Linked DNA regions of Homo sapiens: region 1 is linked to region 2. Evidence: fine-mapped expression QTL. A gene starts in region 2. The other region holds a variant in brackets. All regions are shown on one strand. Distances are from middle to middle. Region 1 has its middle 23 kb from the start of BET1-AS1. Region 2 holds the start of GNG11 (G protein subunit gamma 11).

Region 1 (4,397 bases), 23 kb before region 2:
CCATGTCAAGTCTCTCTTCTGCTCACTTTTACAACTCACCTTAAGCAATCCCATGGTATTAGCTAGCATCCATGTCTTTGTTGGACATAAATCTTATGCCCCTTCAGAGATGTCCCTCGACTGCCTCCTTCTTTTTCTTTCTTGGTCAGTGCCCCACCTGGATGGACCTGGTCACACCTCTACCTCAAGGCTAATGCTGAAGTTGTTTGAGTTGGCTGTTAAAGATTGAGTAGAATTTTAAAAGATGGAATATAGAAGTAGAAGAATTAATTCCAGAAATCTAAAGTGGCAAAACAAAAGTGCACACTCATAAAAAAAAAATCAAGGCAAATTTTGGAATCAGCAAGTAGTGTGCTTGACATGAGCACAAGCTTTAAAGGTAGGTTAAGCCTGGCTTATGGAGAATTTGGCTGTCAGAATAAGGAGCCCAGTTCTCATTCAGTAGATAATAGCAATCCCATGATGGTTTTCGACAAGAGACATATGGTTTTAAAACAGTGGTTTAAGATGGCAAACCTAAAGATCTTTTGCAAGGTGGCTTTCAGAAAAAAGACTATAGAGACAGGAATATGAAGCTGCAATGTAACTATTTTAAGCTTTCTGTTTTGGGGTGATAAAAGCTTTAATCGAGAAGACAATGGAACCGGGAGGAAGAATGGGGCCCAGAAAACACACTGAAGGACAGCAACTAAATTTGGCATGCCTGATATGCAACAGATGAAAACACAGGTTAAAAAGTCTCCTTAAGGTTAAAAGTAATTGGAAAAAGAAAGTCACTGTTTATGTTCAGAAGGGGAGTTGAAAATGTGAAACTCACCTCTAAGAGTGAAGCCTGGAGTACTCACATTAATTTGAAAGCTGTAAAGAGATGATAGCTGAAAATTTCAAAGTTGAGTTTTCCAAAGAGAAGGACGTAGAGAAGGGGAAGAGAAGAAAGTCAAGAATAAGGCCTTAGGAATTATATAAAATGTTAACAAAGGAAACACAAAAAGAACAAGCAAAGAAGAAATTCATTTTGTGCAGGGCTAGATAAGCCAGAGAAACGGAGCAGGTCAAGAATGCTACTGAGAGGCTAAAAGGAAAAGAAAGCATTTGGCAAATTCCAAGAGTTTAAAAATCCTTGCAAGGAATTAAGAAGAGATTGATGAAACAGCCTGGTGTTTTAACAGACATTGTGGTTAAAGGGGGAAAAATGTTATAATGTGCTAGTTTAAGTAGGGAGTAGAATTGGTGAAAAGTCTGTGGCTTTGCATGCTTGGTTAAAGCCAAGGAAAAACTGACAGCATATTTTTAGTGAGGAGGGGCAATTATTGGAGAGAAGAGACATAATAAGGTAAAGAAGTGACTAAGTGATGAACATTTAGGAAAACGGAAGAAACTAAAGGAATTAAAGGAACTGGGAAAGATAAGTTATTTTAAAAAGGAAGGACACCTTGTCTTGGATATAGGAAGTTATATCGTGGTTGAAAATAGATTAGCTGTGAAGACCTGAGAGCGATGTGCTCAGAAGTCTATTCAAACTGGATGAGATAAACTTTGCAGACACTACTGGAAAAGAAAGATAAGGGAGGAATCAGATCACATGCAGTTATATGTCTCCTAAAATAGCCATGTATTAGGCAGAGAGGAGGGGCTGCCAAAATAGTTTTTCAGCATTTCTTTTGGAAAGCGATTAATGATAAGTTTTGCCCAAATGATTGTATTTGCTATATTTTGGAAAGTCTAAACCTGGGAAAGCAAATAGGTTTAACATGTCATGTCAACTCCAATTGATTAGTAAACCTGCAGTGCTATTGGAAAAGATTATGAGGGCTGTTCTAGCTCGGTAAGAGAGCACTCAGTGACTGATTAGCAATATCTACTTTGAGCCAAGCATAAAGGGTTGATATATTTGCTAACTCTGGAACCATAACTGTAAGTTATTTAGTCCAATTTTCTGACATACAGATCAGAAGCAAGGCCACATTTAGGTATCCATCACAGATTTATATGAAAGTGGAAAAGTCATAAAAAGCCACCCTACTTTAAGGTTCCTTAGCTGAAAGATATAGACCTTGGAACTTGGGATTTGAAACCTACAGGGTTCAAAAAGAAAAAAATCAGACCCCACTCACTTATCCGATCTATTCTTATTCCTTCCAAGTTCATTTGGGACTGGCTTTAGAGTCAAGGTATTGCTCTGTTGCCCAGGCTGGAGTGCAGTGTGTAATCATAGCTCACAACAGCTTCGAACTCCTGGGCTCAAAGTGATCCACCTCCTTCAGCCTCCCAAGTAGCTGGGACTGCAAGCACACATGCCACTATGCCAGGCTAGGTAAATATATTTGAACATTACAGTCAAAGAATTATAAATCAAAGTT[C/T]GCTCTACTATCTCAGATCAATTTTCTGATATTCTTTTCAGCAAGAACAAACACTCTGTTCTGGATTTATAATATAAACATTGATATATTTCTAGAGTATAACTTTATAATCAAAAAGAGTTAACTTTTTGATTAACATTATAAAATTAATGTCTATATTTAATAGTCACATTCTTGTTTTTATACTTGTTGTTATAAAATTCCTCTGCTATTATGTAGTGCATTGTTCATGTGAAACTGTTTTTAAAGGAAGCACAGTTCTGTCTTGATAAATATCAGGAAACTGCCAGATGTTTCCTACTGTCTAAGCCAAACCAGTCAACAGTATGATCATGCTTTAACTAACACGGTCACAAAATGCATACCACCCACAGTCTCTCTATAATACAGAGTCCAGTGCTTTAGCACACAGCAAAATGTACAATTTAAATAGAAAACAAAAGAAAGAAGTGAGGAATGTCATTCTAGTGCAGTTTTAACTTTCTCACTGAAAAATAAAATATACATTAACCATTTTAAATTTCTTAATCCAAAAAGGAATAAACTTGCTTTCTAATATCATGGGACATTTCCTTAAATGGAATAGAATTTACAGTTTTTCCCTTAAAAATGGAGACTTCTTTGAAAGATGAGAAAAAACAAAATGAACTTGTTCAAGAATAATATATCAAGAAAGGCTAGTTACTAAGCAAGTTTCTATTTAACCCACAAGTCGTTGTCATGCCCTTGAACAGTCTGCGTTCTAGCCTCAGTCACCTTGACAGGTGGCGAGAAGGGGAGAGACAAGTAGACTTTCAGACAGAATAAATAGTATCACAGTGACTGGGAGACAGAGAAGCTTAAGATTTACTTAGCTATCAACCAGCTGTTTCTGGATAGGTATATACAGATGAACAAAAGTAGAAAATACTGGCATAGGAGATCCAAAATGTGTGTTGTGGAACCATGAAGCCAAATAGTTTGTACTTAAATTAGAAGGCAAAATAAGGCAATTGAGGGTTTCTGTAAGGGGAAATGTATTTTGGATTGGTGGTGAGTTTCTGCATGCAGAAGGATAAAGAAAGAAGTGTGTAAGACAGGGATCATGGTATGTCTGTGTATAAGAGCCTGAAAAGTGTTGCTATCAAATAAGTTGGAAAAGCTCCAAATGGCAGAGGCAAGCAGAGGAGCATGGTAGGCGAGGTTTTGATGTCAAAGGAGGAAAAGGCTTTGAGTAGAAACCAGATTCCAGTTATATAGAAGGTCACAAGTGAATGAGACTTTCAATACACTGGACTTGGCAGTTGGAAAGTCATAGAGAGAAAGTTGGTAGTGAGAATAAGATTGTAATATTTCAAAAGAAATAGAATTTAATTTTTCTCTTCTGAAAAAATGGAGACTCGTTTAAAAGATGAGAAAGAAATGCATGTATTTAAGAATAATATTATTGTTAAGTATGATTAATTAGTAAGGAATGGAGGCAGGCAAATTATATAATCAATGAAATACCTGATGATAAAAAGATCTGAAATTGAATAAAACCATAGAGAGTATTGCTCTCACAGGAAGCAGGAACAAAGAAAAATTTCTTCTTTTGCTTTGTTGTTACAATTGTTGTTATTATTGATTTAGGTAGATTGTACAAATCATGTTTTTAGGCAGAAAAAAGAAACATAACCAATTGAGGGCAAGAGGTAGAAAATCTAAGACAAGAAGGTATAACTTAGGTCCCAGGAGATCCACAGACACCGGAGTTCAAAAACACAGGCTTAGTAAAAGAAACAAAACCAAAAACAAGAACAGAAAACAACGAGACACTTGTTTCTCCATCGAAAAAGAGAAGGACCAGGAAAGAAAGATGAACAATTAACACATTCTCATGTAGGTAGGAGAAAAATTAGGGGAATGTACATCTGATATTTTCAAACTTTTCCACTGAGTAGACGTGTAGGACATTTGCCAGCAAGATGGCAGGCTGAAATAGTGCTGGACTCTTGAAGAAAAGAGAGAAGGTTTGTAAATGATACAGTAAAGAATTCAAGTGAGAAATAAAAGAAC
Region 2 (4,397 bases):
ATTGAATCTTTTCTTACAAGGTTTTTTCATTAGGTTTCAGAAGAGGTCTGTAACCTCCAAATGTGAGTAATTGCTCCTCTGATACATTTCCTTCCATAATCAAGAGGACATGTTTGATAAACATTTAACTACAGCCAGAATGCAACTTGCAAGTTTTGTCTGGGCCTAAGTTAAGGACTGAACACGTAGCCCAGATGTTAACTATTTATTGACTGAATAATGGACTGGGAATGAGAAGAAGAATGTTTTAGTACCTGCCCTATCACTATCTATCTCTGTGGTCTTAAATGTGGAGCTAGTTAGCCTTTGTGGGACTCAAGTTTTTTTTAATCCTTAAAGTGAGGGAGATGAATGATCTCTAAACATTCCAATGCTTGCCTAGCAATAATAATGTATAATTCCAAGTGTATAATCAAATGTCTTAATATTATTGTTGAGATTTAGATGCCTCTTTCTGTATTTCCTAAGGTTACATATATCCAAAGTTTTTTCTCCCTCTGGCATACACTTGAGGTTTCTGGAGGTGGGAAGTTGATGCCACAGGCCGTGTCCTAAAGGGTCAGGCTGGCTAGCAGGGAGAAACTGCTAATGAATGATACAGTCAATTTTTACATAGTCGGTTGCATCCACATCACTTAACTTAAAACTCTGAGTAAGTAGAAGACGCTTGTCTTTTTTCCTAAGTTCTACACAGTGATACCAAATATTAAGATATTAGAACCTTGCATAGACAATGCTGTACTTCAGCATATGAAACTCTGTTTAATATGTAACTCCTAAGGTTTATTGTGTGAACATATCTAAGTGGCCAGCACTTGCTGTACTGGGAACTTCGCCATCCATAAAATGGGTCCCTTAAGGTTTCAAGAAGCGTGCTTATTGATTGGGTAGTGTAACTTCCTTTTTTTCCCCTTTAAACGCGTTGGTGTTTTTAAAGCTACAAACCCTTAACATGATAGAAGGGACAGCTCATTATAAAAGCTAGGAAGAGCCGGGATTTGGATGTGAAAGGTTAAATTTGAGAAAAGAAATATGTAAAAAGTAAAACACAAAAATGCCTGCATCTTCTAATCATCACTCAACAGTGAAGACTCTTGCCCTTAACAGATTTATTATAACTAGAACAGGAAGGCAAGTGAGCATATTATAACGCTTCATTTCCATTGTTTTTCTTAATTTTTTCTAGTGCTAAACCATAATAAATAAGATCAGTTCAAAATTTTCTTGCTGAAGAGGAAAGGTTAATTATCTTTAAACAATATCTATTCAAAGACCTTTCCTAGTCTACAGGATGCCTGATTGAGTTAAAACAGGAAGAGGGATTAGTGTCTGAAGGAAGGTCTTGATGACCAGTAAGAAATTGAAGTAAAACTTATAAAACTCCCGAGACGTTTCAGTGGAGAATATTGAATACTGGGTCATATGTTCTCAATGAAATGGTAATCTCTATCAATAGTCTCTAAAACTTTAAAATTGTGATCACTAAAAAAATTTTTCATATGCACCACAGTGTATGTATAATTATTTATAAATAAGTACAGATACTACTGTATTAATCGCATACTAATAAAACATAAAGTGAAAATTATAAAGGGATGAGATTTACAAATAAATATAGAAATTCTAATATTTTGTTCCCAAATTTCGGTGGACTGTTCTTTGCATATCACTGAAGGCCACTGGTGAAATTCAAAATTAAATAATGTACTTGTAAGACTTTAAAATACGGTTTTAGAAAATTTCTTTCAAATATCATCCTTTCTAGTAGTGTAAAAGATCAAAGAACCAAGTAGCTATCCGCTTTTTTCCTACAAGTGAGTTTTGAAAAACAGCTGTCTAATGGAAAGCAAGATTTCTTGTCTATTTTCCCCTTCCTAGGCATCTTAAAAGTTAGGACATTTGGCCTTAAATTACTTATCAGATCCTTGCTCCCTCCTCTACCTCCTAGGATTTCCCCACATCAGCTGGCAGTCCCCAGGCACTGCCAAAGGGTGGTGAGAAGAGAAGCTACAAAAAGGGGGAAAAATAAGCTAAACTATTTGCTTTACTGTTACTAAGCAGGAAAAATCGGACCCTGCTTCATTTCAGAGAAGGAAATATTCCGGAACAGCCAACTTACTTGTTGTCTCTGCAACTTCACTTCTTTGCGAAGCTGCTCAACTTCCATTTTCAGTTTTTCCTTCTCTGGCAAATCTTCGATGTGAAGGGCAGGCATTTTCGCCCCAGAACCGGGCTCGGGCTAGCTCTGGCAGCGGAGCCGCTGGAAGAGCGGCGAAGCTCGGCGCGTCCCGAAACAACTGAAGGCCTGGCCCGCCGCCCACCCGCGCAGGATGTGACTGCAGCCCTGCTGCGGTCCCCAGCTCCCCGAGGGCTTGGCTTTCTCCGGGACGCTTGTCACGCCAGCGTGCCCCAGCTTCCTAGGACCTGAGAACTCTGCCTTTTCTCAAGTCCCTGCAACCCAGGAGGCCTGCCCGGGTGCTAGATGAGGGTTAAGTTTGAGACTGGGTCCAAGCAGCTTCCCGCTGCTCAATCGCCCAGCAGGGATGCTGGCCACGGACAGGCCCTGACTCAGGACCTGCCACGCCCGCGGGGGACGGCTGGGCTGGGGCTGCAGGACTGGGAACAGCAGAAGTTTTACTTTGTGTTCTCCGCGCACCCCCGCTCCTTTTTTTTTTTCCGTTTCCAAGTCACATCCGGGTTTTGTTTGTGAAGCTAGGAAAAGGAGTACACTACCCAGCAGGAAATAACTACCCTTCACCTCTCAAAGAGTTTTAAAAATATGCTAGATATAGCTTTTCCCTAATTACATACATAGGTTGTTGCAAAAGTAATTACTTTTCTCTAATTACATATATAGGTTGGTGCAATTAGTTTTGCACCAACGTAATAAATGCATAGTGGAGAATGCGGACGCTTAAGAAAAGGCTGAAAAGAAAATGAAGCTTAGCCCTAATCCCAGAAATACCCACCAGTGTTCTGCTCATTTGTGTCCATCCGGCTTGTTCGAGGCCTAATATGGGTTTATACATTTTGGGCGAGGAGGGGGCAACAGGGTGTGAATATCGTTTACAAGTTGCAAGAACATTTTCTATTATTAAATAATCATCTGCATCCTCAACAGCAGCAGAGTTTGTATTTTTTTTATTTTTCCGGGGGAATGTTATGTAGAGGGGTGCATCAAAGGATGATATAAGAGAAGACAGAAGCAGGAATCTTAGAGTTCTTAACCGAAAGCCTTTCTCCACTCCCCAACCCTAAGTTTTGGGTGACACTTGACACCAAGGATTTTGAATTCCTGGCTCCTGAACCTTCCTGGATGTAGGCAGTGGATTCATTTAGTATTAGTTTCTCCACTTTCTGGCAAGCACTATTTATCTAGCTGTTGCTCTGGAAAGCCAGGAAAAGTGTCCGATGTGAAAAAAGTTTACATGCAATAAAACTTTCCCTTTAACTGTAACTAAAGTCTTGTTGATGGTGGTCAAAAGAGTAGAAGAAAAATCAAACATGAATGTAAGAAACCTTCCCTAGCAGTTGGATATTTCTCTTTCTTTCCAGAGATAACCTCCTGCCTCACAGAGTCAAAGGCAAGTGAAATATTAACTTAATATTTCAGAGTAGCTGACCCAAGACACCCATGACCATTCCCTGTTTAGGAAGCAGGAGTTTTTGTTCGTTCCTAGTTTCTTACCACGCTCCGCTCAACCTCAATGAATAAATTAGAATGAAAAAAACAATGAACCACTTAATGAATACTCCTGGCGTGTAGTTGCAGCTCTGCCACAGGCCATCACTGAAGAAGTCATTTAATTTTTCTTAGTTTTGGTTTTCTAATTTGTAAAATGTATAGTAAGGCAGGGAAGTAGTGAATCAGCTAAGCTATGTTGTGTCTCTAATTGTGTTGGTATGTCTATATATGATAAATCATTTTCACAAAGAAAATGTTTAAGAGCTTCACTTTCAATATTTGAAATACCAGGGTTTTCCAAGCTCAGAGTAGTTAGAGCATCTACTGAAGTTTACTTGTAAATAAGCAGGGAGACTAGACAAATGTCCATATCTGTCTTGTGCACTAATTCATTTTTAAAATTTTCTATTACTTAAATTTAAAAGGTTGGTCAAAAATACCTTAAATTAGTGAAAGTAATCAACGTGAATGTGGCCTAAATTAAATAGGTTCAGCACCTAAGTTAAATAAATTGGTTAAATAAATTATTGTGTTTTTGTTCTTTTTTTTGTTTTTTTGTTTTTTTGTTTTTTTTTTTTTGAGACGGAGTCTCGCTCTGTCGCCCAGGCTGGAGTGACTGGCACGATCTCCGCTCACTGCAAGCTCCGCCTCCCGGGTTCACGCCATTCTCCCGCCTGAGCCTCCGGAGGAGCTGGGACTACAGGCGCCCGCT

Evidence for each region. PIP is the estimated chance that this variant, and not a neighbour inherited with it, causes the effect.
Region 1: its variant is fine-mapped to the expression of GNG11 in whole blood (INTERVAL, PIP 0.96).

What each region holds. Positions count from the first base shown.
Region 1 is chr7:93,943,121-93,947,517 of GRCh38, reverse strand. No RefSeq gene overlaps it. Among named protein-coding and RNA genes, the nearest start is that of BET1-AS1, 23 kb to the left of the region's middle. The variant C/T (reference allele first, on the strand shown) is at 2,361.
Region 2 is chr7:93,919,956-93,924,352 of GRCh38, reverse strand. It overlaps GNG11 (G protein subunit gamma 11), which reads right to left and starts at 2,618. Exons shown (of 2, transcript NM_004126.4): 1 at 2,120-2,618. The coding sequence starts at 2,215. All of the region lies in intron 1 of LOC105375402 (a long non-coding RNA gene), which reads left to right. RefSeq lists an enhancer at 2,381-3,016.